Linked DNA regions of Homo sapiens. The protein of the gene in region 1 interacts with the protein of each later gene in a pairwise test. Each region holds a gene or a part of one and is shown in the gene's direction. Other genes may lie near its edges. The genes, in order: CFAP20 and TFCP2L1.

What was found.
Region 2: the proteins of CFAP20 (region 1) and TFCP2L1 interact in a two-hybrid assay, tested with the Homo sapiens proteins (one large-scale study listed by BioGRID and IntAct).

Annotation. Positions count from the first base shown.
Region 1 is NC_000016.10:58,122,882-58,126,381, reverse strand, and holds part of CFAP20 (cilia- and flagella-associated protein 20), read left to right. Parts: intron 1-3,500. UniProt on the Homo sapiens protein: Cilium- and flagellum-specific protein that plays a role in axonemal structure organization and motility. Microtubule inner protein (MIP) part of the dynein-decorated doublet microtubules (DMTs) in cilia axoneme, which is required for motile cilia beating.
Region 2 is NC_000002.12:121,282,114-121,286,695, reverse strand, and holds the start of TFCP2L1 (transcription factor CP2-like protein 1), read left to right. Parts: upstream 1-1,493; 5' UTR 1,494-1,586; coding exon 1,587-1,648; intron 1,649-3,051; exon of another isoform or gene 3,052-3,801; intron 3,802-4,582. UniProt on the Homo sapiens protein: Transcription factor that facilitates establishment and maintenance of pluripotency in embryonic stem cells (ESCs).

The DNA of each region.
Region 1 (3,500 bases):
TGGCTTGTTCGTTAGTGTTTGTCACACCGGCAATTTATTTGACTCTCTGAAGCTCACAGCCCCTCCCCTCCATCTCATCCTTCCAATCTCAACTTAAACATTCTTTTCATTGAGAACTTGAGTTAAGCCTCATGGGTGTGCCTGTGGCTGGCAGTTTTCTATTGTAGATCGTCCACTGGACTGCAGGTTCCTTAAGCAGAAGAACAGTACCTTACCGAAAAACCTCAATGCTAGGGCGTGGTCAGACACCTTGGATTTGCATCCTGGCTGTGCTGTGTTCCAGTTGTGTGATCTTAGCTATGTCCTTAACCATTCAGTTTTCTCGTCTATTTCTCACGGTTATGAAGATTCAATGAAGCTGTATATAAAGTCCTTAGCAACAGAGTTACAGTATATGTAGTCATGCACCACATGATGGCGTTTCAGTCAACGACAGACCTTACACATGACAGTGGTGCCATAAGATTATCATGGAGCTGAAAAATTCCTGTCGCTTAGTGACATAATAGTTGTTCGTTAAGTCAAATGCATTACTCGTGTTTGTGAGTAGGTGTAAACCAACCTACTGCACTGCCAGTCATGTAAAAGTATAGCATATACAATGATGTTCAGTGCCTAACACTTGATGATAAATGACTATGTTACTGGCTTATGTATTTACTATACTCTTTATCATTATTTTATTGTATTTTATTTTTCTGAGACAAGGTCTTGCTGTTGCCCAGGCTGGAATGCAGTAGTGCAATCAGGGCTCACTGCAGTCTCCATCTCCTGGGCTCAAGCAATCCTCCCACCTCAACCTCCCAAGTAGCTGGGACTACAGGCCCTCACCACCACACCTCACTAATTTTTGTATTTTTGTAGAGACGGGGTTTCTCCATGTTGCCCAGGCTGGTCTTGAATTCCTATGCTCAAGCAGTCCTCCTGCCTCAGCCTCCCAAAGTGCTAGAATTACAAGCATGAGTTCCCGTGCCTGGCCTTATCATAATTTTAGAATGTACTCCTACTTAACAACAAGAACAAAAAGTTAACTGTAAAATAACCTTAGGCAGGTCCTTCAGGAGATATTTCAGAAGAAGGCAGTGTTGTCATAGGAGATGACAGCGCCATGTGCGTTATTGCTCTTGCAGACCTTCCAGTGGGACAGCATGTGGAGGTGGAGACTGTGATTGATGTTAATGATCCTGACCCTGTGCGGGCCTGGGCTCATGTGTGTGTTTGTGTCTTAGTTTTTAACAAAAAAGTTTAAAAAGTTAAAAAAAGAAATAGGAAAAACCTTATGGAATAAAGATATATAGAAAGAAAATATTTTTGTGCAGTTGAACATTGTGTTTTAAGCTAAGTGTTATTACAAAATAGTCTAAAAGTTTTTAAAATTTTTAAAGTTTATAAAGTAAAAAAGTTCCAGTAAGCCAAGGTTAATTTATTATTGATGAAAGAAAAATATTTTTAATAAATTTAGTGTAGTCTGGCCAGGCACAGTGGCTCATGCCTGTAATCCCAGCACTAACTAAATAACTAAAGCACAGTGGCTCATGCCTGTAATCCCAGCACTAACTAAATAACTAAATAAAATAAATGTATTGTAGCATAAGTGTATTGTGTTTACAAAGTGTTCAGTAATGTCCTAGGCCTTCACATTCACTCACCACTCACTCACTGACTCAACCCAGAGCAACTTCCAGTCCTGCATGCTCCACTCATGGCCAGTGCCCTATCCAGTTGTGTCACTTTTTATCGTTTATACAGTACTGTACCTTTTCTATGTTTAGACACACAAATACGTACCATTATGTTACAGTTGCCTACAGTATTCAGTACAGTAGTATGCTGTACAGATTGTAGCCTAGGGGCAATAGGCTATACCATATGGCCCGGGTGTGTAGGATGTTGTACTGTCTAAGTCTGTGTAAGTACACTCTGATATTCACACAGCCATGGAACTGCCTAATGAGGCATTTCTCAGAACGTAATCCCATCCTTAAGCAATGCATGACTGTAGTTAGTACTTTATAAGTAATGACATACAGAATTAAATATGGCAGGGACTGAGGAATTTGCTCAAAACTAAAATAAGATGTTTGAACTTAGCCCACCATCCAGATTTCTAGGAATAGGAAGTACTGTAAAACCAGACTCCTGAAATGAGAAGAATTTAGTTGTTGCACCGTGGCTCGCCCAGCCCTAAGCCCTTAATGTGGCTCTAAGGCCACATAACCCATGCTCTGGCACCTGCTTCACTTGTTCTCCAGGCGGGACTCACTTCACCCGGTTCCCCCTCTTAGTAGTAGCCTCCTACTGAATTGAAGGAAGTCCTGTTCTCTCACCTTCAAGCTTTTGCACTTCCTGGTCCTTCTGCTGGGCGCTGCCCCTCACCACCCCACAAGCCTCACTCCCATCTTTTCATTAGGCTCCAGTCACAGTTCAAAGGCCTTTCTCAGAGTGACCTTCCTTAACTCTTCAGGGTAAGTTAATTTACTTCTTTCTTATCACACTTGACATTATTAGCTTCTTAAGGTCTGTATTCCTGGCTATACAGTTTCCTGATAGAAGCTTTTGTAAGTTTCTAAACCAACAGCTTAGAAGAAATTAGGGGTTTCTTTAATGTTACCTTGACATCTGGGACCAGCAAATCTTATATTTATTAAAAGACTCTTACGTTTAATGTAAACATTACTTCTGGTTGTAAGGAAAATACCAGGAGGTTCTGTTCCCACTTATACTTGTGTAAAACATGCTGTAATTTTCAGTCTTTTTTTTTTTTTTTTTTTTTTTTTTTTTTTTTTGAGACAGAGTCTTGCTCTGTCCCCCAGGCTGGAGTGCAGTGGCACGATCTCGGCTCACTGCAGGCTCCACCACCTGGGTTCACGCCATTCTCCTGCCTCAGCCTCCGGAGTAGCTGGGACTACAGGCGCCCGCCACCACGCCCAGCTAATTTTTTGCATTTTTAGTAAAGATAGGTTTTCACCGTGTTAGCCAGGATGGTCTCGATCTCCTGACCTCGTGATCCGCCTGCCTTGGCCTCCCAAAGTGTTGGGATTACAGGCGTGAGCCACTGCGCCCAGCCAATTTTCGGTCTTAATGGTAGTAATCCTGGCTGGGCGCAGTGGCTCACGCCTGTAATCCTAGCACTTTGGGAGGCCAAGGCGAGCTGAGGTCAGGAGTTCAAGACCAGCCTGACCAACATGAAGAAATCCCGTCTCTACTAAAAATACAAAAGTTAGCCGGGCATGGTGGCACATGCCTGTAATCCCAGCTACTCGGGAGGCTGAGGCAGGAGAATCACTTGAACCCGGGAGGTGGAGGTTGCGGTGAGCCGAGATGGTGCCATTGCACTCCAGCCTGGGCAACAAAAGCAAAACTTTGTCTCAAAAAAAACAAGATAGTATCCTAAAAGTACATGAGATGAGATTGCATTAATTCATGAAAACGCCTTTGTCTGTCTTTCCTGTCACCCTGTCTTTCTCTCAGCTGCTGCTGTTTCTCCCCTACTCCAAGAC
Region 2 (4,582 bases), on another chromosome or scaffold:
ACCTATGGCTGGAGGGAGGAGGGCAGGAACAGCAGAGTGAGGGAGGGTTTTACCCACATCCATGCGTGGGGGAGTGGGGAGTTCTGGACCAGGTCCCCAAGGGATGTCATTTGACTGGATTAATACTCAGGGACAGAATCCCCATCTCCTCTGTGCCAGGTGCTGTGCCATGTACTGGAGAACCGGATAGCACCTGGATAGGGGTCAGGGCTCCAGGGAACTCCACTCCCTCCTAATGGCCCTCCCCTCCACCCCATGACCCACTGTCTACACTGCTGCCAGACTGATCTTTCCAAAAGGCAAATCATACATGTGACTCCTCTGCTTAAAACACAGAATAAAATCCTAGCTCCTTGTCCTGGCCTGCCAGGCCCTCTGATCTTCCCCGCCCTCCTCACCTCATCTCCTAAGCTCTCCTCAAGACCAGCCATGCCAAGTAGGTCTTCCTCAAGGCTTTGGCAGTCACTGTTGCCAAGGGGGTAGGGAACTATGCCTGGAACTATTTTTCCCTAGGTGATGTTCACAGAGATGCTTCCTTTGCATCCATCAGGTCTCAGCTCAATGTCACCTCCTCCAGGAAGGCTTCTCTGATTACTCTTTTGGTGCATTCCTTTTTTCTTTTTTTATGTTTACTCAACAAACATTTATCTTAACTATGTCCCATGCACTGTTCTAGGCAGTGCAGGTAACGGGGTGTTAAGCGAGCCAGGCCCTGTCCTCTTGGAGCTTACAGTCTAATGGGAAAGACAATCAGTACACAAGTAAAAATAAAAAATAAAAAAATGTCGGCCTGACTCGGGGGCTCACGCCTGTAATGCCAGCACTTTGGGAGGCCAAGGTGGGCGGATCACCTGAGGTCAGGAGTTCGAGACCAGCCTGGCCAACATGGCGAAACCCCGTCTCTACTAACAATAAAAAAATCAGTCAGGCGTGATGGGGGGCGCTTGTAATCCCAGCTACTCAGGAGGCTGAGGTAGGAGAATTGCTTGAACCTGGGAGGAGAGGTTGCAGTGAGCCCCGAGATCGCGCCACTGCACTCCAGCCTGGGTGGCAGAGCGAGACCCCGTCTCAAAAAAAAAAAAACCAACAAAAAAACCCCCATGATTTCAGAGCGTCTGAAGTGCTATGAAAAAACAAGAGCGAGGAAAGGCGACAGAGAGGGCCTAGGCTGGAAATCTCGGAGCCGCTCTGGAGACCGGCCCTGGGCGTAGAGTGGGGAGCAGAGGCCAGAGGGGCCGTGTGGAGCGGGTTGGGGGCGGCAAGGGTCACCTGAGCCCCACATCGGAGTTTGGGGAGAGCACCCGGCCGGCCCTAGAGCCCTCTGGTCTGGCCGCCCCGGAGGCGCGCTCGCTCGCCGGAAAGGCACGCGCGGGAGTCAGCCAGGTGCGGCTGCCGCGGGGAGCCGCCCTCCGGGCCGCGCTTCCTGGGGGGCGGGTCTCACCGCTGTCCCGCCCCTGGGCCGCCGATAAATGCGCCGAGCCGGCCGGCACCGCGGGTTCGGAGCGCGAAGCCGCCGCTGGGTCCTCGGCGCGCCCCGCGTCTGCGCTTGCTGCCGCGCCCCGGTCGGCGCGCTGGGAGTTCCAGCCATGCTCTTCTGGCACACGCAGCCCGAGCACTACAACCAGCACAACTCCGGCAGCTACCTGCGGTAAGGGCCGCGCGCGGTCCCCGCGGGTCTCGGGCCGGGCCGGCGGGCCGGGCGCCGTTGGACGTCCAGGGGCGGAGAGGGGGCGCCCCTGCTGGGCCCTGGCCTCCCCGCTGTCCGCCCTCTGGGGACTGAGAGACCCGCCCAGCGTCCCGCCTAGGGACTGACAGATGGACGCCGGCGGGACCCGACGTGCGGAGTTGGGGGCCCGCTGGGGAGGCGAGCGCGCAGAGCCCTATGTCTGCGAGGGCTCCTCCCAGGCGGCAGAGAGGGTGCAGGGCGCGCACCTGCCGGCCCGCCGCCTCCCCTGGCCCGTCCGCCCCCTGCGGCCCTCCTCTCCCCCGCGTATCGGAGAAGCAGAGGAAACTTCCTGCCAGCAGCCTGGTGCCCGGCCCGGGGAAGTTCGTCCCCTGCTCTTTGCCCGTCTCCGCCGGGGCCCCTCTCCCAGCCTCGCGCCCTCTGCAGTGCCCTTCCTTGGACGAGGGGCGGGCGGCGGGCTCGGAGGGGCAGGCCGCCCCACTTCCCGCGATGGTCTTGCGCGTGTTCGCCCGAGGCCCGCGTGGTTATTGCCCTTGATGGAAATCTTTCTTCTGCTGGAGGGATTTGAGTAGTGCCCTTCAGAGGGGAAAGTAAGTCCTGCGTGTTTTGCACAGTTCCCCACAGGCCCCTCTTAGCAGTAGGACCCCGTGTGCTCTCGCTCCCGGAGGATTGTTTTTCCCTGTTCTGCTGCTGGCCGGGACTAATGGGCAGTCATTTCACTTTGTGAACTCGCCTGAACCAGCTTTAGCCTGTCCTTATTTCCATCTTAGTCACAGTTTATGAAATGTGCCTAATTTAACCCAAAGGGCATTTGATATGGGCTCAAGGAAAATGAATGATGAGGCCGAAGGAGTCACAGGCATTGACAGCCCCCATACTAGAGCTACCTTTAAGTGCTAGTTTTGGCCCCAAGAAGTTCCCACTTAGATCTTAAAACGTTATTTGTAATTCCTGGCTGCTGGTAGGTATTTGTCCTCCCTGAAGACATCCCCTTTTCCTGGAGGCGGGGGAATGATTGGGTTTAGTGGATGTATCTGCTGTTTTTATTCATGGGCCAAAGTAGTCGGAGATGGCAAAGGTCTAGAGCCTTAAAGGCTGACAGCCACCCGGCAGACCACGGTGATGTCACCAGAGGGAAGCCCAGGAGGAGATGTTAATCACCCAGAGATTAAGTGTCCATTCACTTGCAAGAAATGCTACAATGGAATACATTTTTACTGTACTGAAGTTTTAGTTGTAGCTTTGGCTAAGTTTTAGTTTGCTGCCATTAAGTATGTTGCCATATCTTAACAATGAGTTTGAAGGTGACCCTGAGTTGAAGGTGAGTGTACTTGAAACTTCCTAGATACCTACAATGTCCTCACCCCGTTAGGGAACAATTCTCCCTTGCCTGGGAGGTACAGTTCTGACATCTGCTACCGAGATGGAAGTTTGTCTGGAGTAGCTCAGGTACCTTTTAGGATTTGGTGAAAGGAGGAGGGTGAGCGTTGGGAGTGGGTGGTGCTGTAAAGCCATATTGGCTTCTGGGGTCATCGGGGGACCATGGATAAAGAAGTCCTTGCCCTTTTTTATTTCACTTCTTGGAAGCTGGGAGTTTTGCCCTCAGTGAGGGCCAAGGTGGCGGTTTGTGCATATGCCCCTGGTCCCCTGACTCTAGAGGGAGGGTCTGGTCCTTTTCCTTGCGTTTTTTGTATTTTATTTTTGGTCGTCTCCTCACTTGGCAGAACTTCTGCAAGCTGTCTGACCTCACCAGGGTAGAGGCCTTTACTCCCTTCCCCCTTTCTGTTTGATGTTCTCGTGACTTTTATTCCTTGGCAAATAAAGATGCCAGGCTTGAAACAAGTTACTGTTGAGGGATGGTTCTTAACTTCCTCTGCCCACCCGCCCCTGTTTAAAAAATTTAAAGGCAGCAGTCCGTGGATTATTAACTTGACATGGTCTGGGCAAACATGAAATTATGCAATCCTCAGTGTTCCTAGAGAACCACCCGGGCTGGGAGTGTGCCCTGCTCTGACAAAAGGAAGACGCCCTGTGGGGGAAAGTCGAGACGGCCTTGCACCCTTATTTTTCGGCAGTGGATGGTGACGGGGGAGGCCCACACAGGGCAGGTTTTCCAGGTGTGTGCTCAATGCCAGGCTTTTTCTTCTCAAAATTGATGAGATGTTGATGGGGTGTGTGCCGGGTTTGTGTTGTAGAGACGCTTGTTTATGATGTGCGAGGAACAGATTGTACCAGTGACTCTGTTTATACAGACAAGTGGGGTCAGCTAATTGGATTCCTAGTCAGGGACCCACGAAGGGAAGAGGGTTATCAAGATAAGAGCACTGGCACTTATTTGGCACTTGTTTATGTGCTGCTCATAATTTAGAGACCTTACACAAGCCTTGCCTGCCTGTAGGTCATTCATGTTCTCAAGGAATTCTTTGTCCCTTGTAAGGGCATTTTTAAAATGCTGGGTTTTTTGTTTCTTTCTTTTTCCTTTTTTTTTTTTTTAGAGATGGTGGGGTCTCACTATGGTGCCCAGGCTGATCTCAAACCCCTGGCTTCAAGCAGTCTTCTCACCTCAGCCTCCCAAAGTACTGGGATTTCAGGCATGAGCCACTGTTCCTGGCTTAAAAAATACGTCCAGAAACAAGTTCCTCCCTAAGTCGCAGGATGATGACTTCATTTTTTTTTTTTTTTTTTTTTTTTTAATGTGGAGAGTTTTGTTAAGAGGTGGAGGAAAAGAAACTTGGAGCAAGGATTTCAAGATTTCCCACTTGGATAAGAAAATAGACTGGGCTGGGCGCGGTGGCTCACACCTGTAATCCCAGCACTTTGGGAGGCCGAGGAGGGTGGATCACCTGAGGTCAGGAGTTAGTGACCAGCCTGACCAACATGGTGGAACCCTGTCTCTAC